Linked DNA regions of Homo sapiens: region 1 is reported to be linked to region 2. Evidence: microRNA targets listed by miRTarBase, many of them from high-throughput screens and not tested one by one. Region 2 holds a microRNA gene; the other region holds the end of a gene's coding sequence. Distances are between the middles of the regions.

Region 1 (4,055 bases), 5.3 Mb from region 2:
TACTTCTCAGCATCGTAAGTGTCTTTGCCAATTGCATTTCCTAGAAAAGTTGTACTGTTTTGATAGGCAGCTGGCTGGTTTAGAAAAACCAGTTAGCCATAGAACTGACATCACGCAGAGAGCCCCGACTCCCTGATTAGCCCACCCCAACTCAAAATCTGACTCCAGGGATGTTTTGTTGAAAATGTTATTTCTCTAAAACAGTATTTCTTTTCCTCTCCTGGGGACTAGGAGGGCAGGAGACAATGAGGAGCAGGCCTGGGCCCTGGTTCCAACATCAAGAGTGACAGGGTGGTCTCAGGGATGTCCTGTGAGGGCAGCCTGAGCCACTAAACAGGTCCAGTAGAGATGGTATTTTATCTTTAAAAAATCTGTATTGGATCTGATGTTAAGTTGGCTTATCAGTAGAAGCATGAAACCACTTCTGAGTGGCGGGACATGGTTGGGTGGAGAAGAATCTGTTTTTTTGTTGTTTTTTTTTGAGACAGTCTCACTCTGTCACCCAGGGTGGAGTGCAGTGGTGCAATCTTGGCTCACTGCAGCCTGCGCCACCCAGGTTCAAGCGATTCTCCTGTATCGGCCTCCCAAGTAGCTGGGACTACAGGCGTGCACCACCATGCCCAGCTAATTTTTGTATTTTTAGTAGAGACGGGGTTTCACCATGTTGGCCAGGCTGGTCTCAAACTCCTGGCCTCAAGTGATCCACCCACCTCAGCCTTGCAAAGTGCTGGGATTACAGGCGTGAGCCACCATGCCTAGCCAAGAAGAATCTATTTGAATTCGTGGAGATGATGCCTGCAACCTTCGCTACAAGCAGAAAGACTAGATGTTTGGGTGCCTACAACTCCTGCTTCAGGAACTCACCATCTCCAGTCAGGCTGCCAGATGCTCTTGGCTCCCACACAGCCCACCCCTATCCCCTATTCCATCAGGAGCTGCCTTCTACTAGTGCAGCGGCTTCAACACAGGCTTCTGCAATAGGTCAGGGCTCCTGAGAGCACTGGGCACATGGACAGCGCATTCTGTTGTGCTCTTTGAGCCATTTTTGCAAAGCACGTTTCTCTGTTTTTAGGTACTGCAAGCTTTTGGCCAAGGGGCCCAATTCCCTATGAGACTGAAGATGGGGGGGTACCCTCTGTGCACCCCACTTTGTAGCAAGTGCCTTTCTCCCCCATGCTGGCTTCCTCAGGTGACAGCCTCTCCTCCTGGGGTGAATGAAAGACTCCCTTCATGGCAGGGGAACGCTCAGGTTCTGGACATGTGACACTTACCATCTTTTCTTTTAAACCTCATTCCTGTTTATGGCCAAATTGTGCGATTGTGTAGAACATGGCTAAGTATTTGAGAGTGAAAGAAGGGCCTGGGTGCAATTGAGCAGCATCACCAATGGGCTCCTCTTACCATATGACGTTTTGCTTATTTTAAAATACAGCCACCAGACTGAACCCACCATGGTCTCAGACACTGACACACCCATGGGACACAGAGATGGTAGAACTAAGTGACTGTCACCCTGCCATATCCATACCTGTTCCAGAGAAGAAGGGTCAGCACAGTCATGGTTGGTCCAGGACTATCCCCTGCCCCTGAATCCACACACGCTCCAGCAGGAAAGCTGCACGAGGCCCTCCAAGTTACGGGGCTGGCACCTGAACTCCTGTTTCTGCACTCTTGCAGGCAGCCCCGAGACCCAGGTGACTGATGGCCATGGACTGCTGCTGTGGGGCAGGTGGGGACCCTCCGTAGGAGAAATAAGTCTCTTGGCCGGTTTAGAATTTTCTTTCTTGACCCTCTCTTCGAACAAAAATTTTAAAAAATACAGGTAAGATTAAACAAGAGCTGCTTAAGATTTTTAAAAGGAGAGGTGTGATGGGTTTCTTCCTGCTGCCTCTCTCGAAGGTTTTTCTCAGAAAACTAACTTGTGGCTGTCGGACGCCCCCCCCCCCCGCCCCAGTCTGTAAGCCGCCCCAATCCTCTCAGATCCGAGCAAAGCCTGGAATCCCCCAATTTCCTCCCGTCCTTATTCTGGGCCTAGTATAGCTGCAGGTTTCCACGCAACAATGCTTTTCTTCCCAGCCCTTGACGGTGGATGTGGATGTCTGGAAAAATCCAAGTGCATTTTATTTTCATTACCTTGTCAGAACAGTCTGGAGAAGGCATCTCAGTTCAAATGTGAGTGACTGGATCACTTTATTGAATGGTAAGAAATTTAAAGAGCAAAGAGCTGTTGTAAATGCTACTTGTATTTTTTTTCCTCCAAAACTCCAGTCTTGAATTTATTTTTCTTTCACACAGGGGCATTTCTACAGCCACAGGGTGCATGGCTGTGCTTAACTGTGTTTTCCATCCTAGTCTGTTCCTGTGGACGTCTACAGAATAAGAATTAACCATCCTTGTCCACTGCTGGGATGGCTCAGGCTGCCAAGTCATTTCCCAAGACCAGTATGAGAGAGTCCTTTCTCGGGCTAGCTGCTTCAGTAGGAATCAGTGATCTGGTACGTGGGGTTTGCTCTTGGTTTCTGCATTTCTTGGTAAAAGGAAAACCTTTTAAAATGCTAAGTCATAAAACCTTTGGTAGTGAAGCCAAGCGGCATTCCCTCCAGACTCCTCTCCCCTTGAATAAGGTCCAAAAAAATCTCAGGTTTTTTTTTTTTTTTTTTTTTTTGAGACAGGGTCTCACCCTGTCACCCAGGCTGGAGTGCAGTGGTGCCATCAGGGTTCACAGGAGCCTCAACCTCCTGGGCTAAAGCCATCCTCCCGCCTCAGCCTCCCAAGTAGCTGGGACTACAGGTGTGTACCACCATGCCCAGCTAATTGTTTTCCAGAGACAAGGTCTCACTATGTTGCCCAGGCTGGTCTTGAACTCCTGAGCTCAAGTGACCTTCCCAAAGTGCTGGGATTACAGGTGTGAGCCCTGCACCTGGCCCTGGTTTAATAAGAACCAGAGCCACAACCCTCTCAGAGTGACCCAGTGGAGCCCCAGTTACCTGCCTCACTCTGAGAGTGAAATTAGGCAGCGAGAAAGGAAAAGCCAGTTTTTCAACCAGCAGGCAACTTTCCCCTCTCAACAGGGACACTGGGGACTTATGTGCCAGCCCAGGCTGAACTAACTACTGTGTGACTTACTGCCTCAGCTAAAGCTTGCAGCTCAAGAAGGAGGATGCCCCTTCCTTCGCGAACCCTCCGTGGGTCTGGCAGGCACCCAGCCTCTGTGCATGGCCTGGGAAGGAACCACTGCCCTGGGTTAGAGAATGCCACGTGAACACAAGAAAAAGGATGCGGCAGGAGTTAACCATCCTCCCCTTCTGTCCCTCCAGGAGGCAGGGAGGAACATCTCAGGCTGAATGCTGGCCTTCCCCAAATGGCCCACAGGGAAAGGCTGGGGAAAAGGAGCTGGATTCACTGCCCAGTACTTGTCTCATTTCCCAAGACTTTATCCAATTCTCAGCCACTGAGTAGGGTACCACCTGGGTCCTAGTGTGCTAGATAGTTTCAGGCAGGAGCCTGGGAGCAAGGGCTGTGCTGGCCCTCTTGGCTTATCAGGGGGCTTCCCTGGTCATCCTCCAGCAGCAACTGTCTTAGCGCTGGGTGGCCAGCGTCCTGGGCTTGTAGACAGGGACATCTTTGTCCCAGAGTGCAGGCTGCCCCTTGATAATGTCAGCTGCCTTCTCTGCGATCATGATTGTGGGGGCGTTCAGGTTGCCGCTGACCATGCTAGGCATGATGGAGGCATCGACGACCCTGAGGTTTTCCACCCCGAGGACCCTTGTCTGCGGATCCACCACGGCAGTGGGATCGGAGGGCTGGCCCATCTTACAGGTGCACGAGGGGTGGTAGGCGCTGTCGGCTTTTGCCCGCACAAAGGCATCTATCTCTTTATCTGACTGAATGTGGCTTCCTGGCTGGAGCTCTTTCCCTCGGAACGGAGCCAGGGCTTCCTGTGCAAAAATTTCTCTGGTGAGCTTCACACACAGACGGAAATCCTCAATATCAGTTTCTGTCGAGGAGAAGAAACAGGTGAGGACCCCTCCTTTTGCCCGTGCTGGCCTCACTGG
Region 2 (4,066 bases):
GATGCAGGATTTCCTCCTGCTTAGCAGCTGTCGCACTGCCCTTGGTTGCTTGAGAGCCCGGCCACCTGGCCGGGAACTATGCAAACAATGCACAATGCGGGCCTCAGCTGTCCACCGGCCCTGAGGAGGCAAGGCCTTGCCTAACTTGTTTTCCTCTCACCTTAGCTAATACTGAGAGTTCTCTGCAAGTTTCTCCACTCTCACTCAGTCAGCCTGTTTCATGGGGTCTCCTCCTTCCCGCCCCTGAGGCTCACCATTTGGGTCACCTTTAAACAAGGGGAATGCACAGGAGTGATGGAGCCCCCACTGGCAAGCAAGGCCCTTTGTTTCTCTGCAGGGCCTGCCTGGGGCCAGGCCACCGCCTCCATGCCCTGAGTCCCAAGGGCAGTCGGTGCCGAGGTACACCTATGGCTTTAGCTCAGTATCCGCCAGGGTAGGACAGAGGGCACAGCTTCCCAGAAGTGCCCAGGCTCTTGGATAGCACTAGGCTTCTCTGAGGGATGACTGCCCCATTTTACAGCTGGGGACACCGAGGCTCAGAGTTCCCAATGAGTGTCAGACTCAAGATGGCAACCCAGGCCTGACTCCTGATCCCCTGCGGAAGTGCTTCTGGGGCCTCTGTGCTCTGAGGGAAACAACTTGTTGGTGGGGACAGTCTGTCTAGGCAACCAGGTGAAGGCACTTGCAGAACCAAGAAGAGGGGCAGTGACAGGTCCCCACATCTGTTCATCTGCCTGTCTGCTATGGTTTTACCTGACCCAGGTCCTAAGGATGAGGAAAAGGAAGCTTCCTGAGGCTTCTGACGTGAGACCGCGTTTGATGGCACTGGAAACTGAGCTGAGGGCTGGGCTCACGCCTGTAATCCCAGCACTTTGGGAGGACGAGGCAGGCAGATCACCTGAGGTCAGGAATTCGAGACCAGCCTGACTAACATAATGAAATCCTGTCTCTACTGAAAATACAAAAATTAGCCAGGTGTGGTGGCATGTGCTTGTAATCCCAGCTACTTGAGAGGCTGAGGCACGAGAATTGCTTGAGCCCGGGAGGCAGAGGTTGCAGTGAGCTGGGTACCAGTGTCCTCCAGCACTCCAGCCTGGGCAAGGGCGACAGAGCGAGACTCCCTCTCAAAAAAAAAAAAAAAAAAAAAAAAAAAAAAAAAGAAGGCTGGAGGTGATGGCTCACACCTGTAATCCCAGCACTTTGGGAGGCCCAGGCAGTCGGATCACCTGAGGTCAGGAGTTTTGAGACCAGCCTGACCAACATGCCGAAACCCCGTCTCTACTGAAAATACAAAAATTAGCCAGGTGTGGTGGCAGGTGTCTGTAATCCTAGATACTTGGGAGGCTGAGGCAGGAGAATCGCTTGAACCTGGGAGGCAGAGGTTGCAGTGAGCCAAGATCGCACCACTGCCCTCCAGCCTGGGCAACAGAGTGAGACTCCGTCTCAAAAAAAAAAAAAAAAAAAGAAAAGTGAGCTAGGTCCCATAAGATGAAGCTGGCAGTTCTGCTGCCTTGGTATCTGTTCTAGCCAGCTGGGAATATAGGGGGCTGTATTCAGATCCTTCCGTGCCTCTAGCCTGGCATCTTCTCTGGCTGGCACACTGACCTGTGGCACATGGATGGTGGTGGGTGGGCTATCAGAGGGACTGTCCTTGTGGGCATCAGTCTGGGTCTCTGGTCTCAACCCCTTGTGGTCCTTACCCTGAGAGACTTCTAGATGCCTCCCTCCCTGATCCTGCCCACAGTTCCTGAGCACCAGCGCTGTGCCAGGCCCCAGGGCCCTAAAGGGCTCAGATACCACAGGGCTTCTTCTGCTGTAAGTGATCAGTCTAGAGAGAAGAGTGTCATTAGTGAGGTGACCAGGATTGAGGGTGAGGGGTGTTCCCGGTGGCCATGGAGATGCCTTGGGGAAAGGACTCATTGAGGAAGTGACTTTTTAGCTGGGCTTTGTATGATGAAAAGAAGTTCACCACAGGGAGGGCATGCAGTGGGGCTATGTGTTCTGGGAGCACTGAGTGATGGATGGGGTGGGAGAGATGTAAAAAGGTTAGGGTATGGATTCCTGGATGACAGAGGCAGGGTGTTGATTACCCTGCTGGGTTTTGGTCCTGTCCTTCATGCGGTGGGGACCCCCCTAGCCATGTTTAGCCAGTGGCAAGTTCGGTTGACTTTATGCCTGGTGGTGCACATCAGGATGAAAAGGGCTGGAGAGATCCCACTGTGTCTGCCAGAGCCCAGGCGGGCCTGGGGAAGGGGGACATGCCAACGGTGGCTTGAAACCAGCATCTGGGGCCACTCCAGGAGCTGTGTGGGGATGCTAGGAAGCCAAGAAGATACGTCTGATGCCAGTCCCATGCCCTGAGGCTGAGAGACCACAGGCTGAGAGGGAGGGGTGCGCTGGGAGGGTCCCAGCCCTCATCTGACACTGTGCTGCTTGCCTTTTAGTGTGCATGACCAACTGCCCAACTCTCATTGTCATGGTGGGCCTGCCCGCCAGGGGCAAGACCTACATCTCCAAGAAGCTGACTCGATACCTGAACTGGATTGGTGTGCCCACTCGGGGTGAGGCTTGGCCCCAGCTGTCTAAGGGGAGCTTTGTGGGGCATGACGAAGAGAATAGAGAAGGCCTATTCTCTATTATTTGGCCTGGGGTTGGGTCAAGGTCAGGGTTGGTAGGGGTTGCTGTTGCTGTGAAAGCTGAGCCTCTCCTTCCCTCCAGAGTTCAATGTTGGCCAGTATCGCCGGGACGTGGTCAAGACCTACAAATCTTTTGAATTTTTTCTCCCCGACAATGAAGAGGGCCTGAAAATCAGGAAGTAAGTATATGTGTTGGGTGTGGGGGGAGAGGTTGCTGGGGGACCCAGTGTGGAGAAAGCTAACACATTACTGACCATTTACTGAGAAGCCCCTGGAGTGGAGCTGCTGGTGAATGACTGAGCTACTCCTGAGCCCTGGCCTTGCCCAGCCCTGATGGCTGTGTGACAGGGCTGTGTGACAAGGCTGGTCTCTGGATCTCTCAGGATGTGGTGGGGGTGGGAGGTGATGGGTTTGGGGATGAGAGGAGAGGGTGTGTTGTGTGGCCTCCTGGTGGCTGGGCCATTCCTGCCCTGGGGTTAAGGAACCCTTGGGAAGGACAGAGCTTCAGGGAGGTAAGAGGGGCTCAGCCCATGCAGGTCGTTGGAGCTGCTGCCTGGAGGTCACGCTCGCTCACCCCAGCGCCCCGTGGGGATGGCTGCTGCTGGGGAAGGGAACCTGAGTGAGTGCAGGCATACAGGCCTTAGGGATGGAGCTGGGGGTGGGGGGCTTCCTCCCTTGCCCCAGGATAAGCTCTCTCCTGTGTATTTGGAGCATGTTCTTGGTGTGTGATTGCTGGTGCGATTGGCTTTGCATTGACATCTCCTAGATGCTGCTGGGTGAGTCGTTCACACTTCTGCTGTTACTCTGGAGATAGAAATATGTATATGCTACCGCCCCACCCTCAACAACTTTCAGACTTGAACTGAGTCCTTTCTTCAAGGAACTGAGCACCAGCTGGTGGTCTGAGCAGCCATGCTGTGCTTTTCTCAGGAGGTGTTAGCTGTGGTCTTGAGAAGCCCCTTATCAACCTAGGGTGGCAGAGACTTGCTCTTGGCCCAGCCATCAGGATAGGGCAGTGAGCAGAGGTTGACCCAGCTCTAGTGACTTCCCCAAATCAAGCCCAGTGGCTACCAGGCTGCCACTGGGGTCCACACTAGGCTACCCGTTCCTTCTCTGGCCACCAGGGGGCAGGAACTCCCTGCTGTGGGGCTTGGACCTTCAGACTGGAGACTGCCTTTGTTCTTGCATCGGTGTGGCTGGGCCAGGCTGTGGCACCAAGAAGGGAAGGGGAGCCTGATATTCAGGTTTCTATGGCCAAATTGTGGGTAAAAATCAAGGCTGGACCCTCTGGTTATATTGAGCCAGATAAAAAGTAGAGGACTAATGTCTGAACCTACCGTGTGCTGGGTTCTTGATGCCCATTGTCACCCCCTACTTTTACAGATGAGGAAACTGAGGCTCAGACAGGCCAGGAGTCTCGCACAAAATAG

Evidence for each region. The annotated mature microRNA hsa-miR-6823-5p reads UCAGGGUUGGUAGGGGUUGCU and lies in region 2 at 2,663-2,683, shown strand. An mRNA with a match to its seed (bases 2 to 7 or 8) in the 3' UTR can be bound and repressed. Matches are read on the target gene's strand: a 7mer-m8 pairs with bases 2 to 8, a 7mer-A1 pairs with bases 2 to 7 and ends in A, and an 8mer does both.
Region 1: the mRNA of CHDH is a reported target of hsa-miR-6823-5p. Seed matches in the 3' UTR shown: 8mer at 2,713-2,720.

What each region holds. Positions count from the first base shown.
Region 1 is chr3:53,814,199-53,818,253 of GRCh38, forward strand. It overlaps CHDH (choline dehydrogenase), which reads right to left. Exons shown (of 9, transcript NM_018397.5): 9 at 1-3,997. The coding sequence ends at 3,579. Among named protein-coding and RNA genes, the nearest start is that of CHDH, 30 kb to the right of the region's middle.
Region 2 is chr3:48,548,613-48,552,678 of GRCh38, reverse strand. It overlaps MIR6823 (microRNA 6823), which reads left to right and starts at 2,658; the gene lies at 2,658-2,718. It overlaps PFKFB4 (6-phosphofructo-2-kinase/fructose-2,6-biphosphatase 4), which reads left to right. Exons shown (of 14, transcript NM_004567.4): 2 at 2,445-2,561; 3 at 2,719-2,815. RefSeq lists enhancers at 1-257, 258-921, 922-1,583, 1,584-2,247.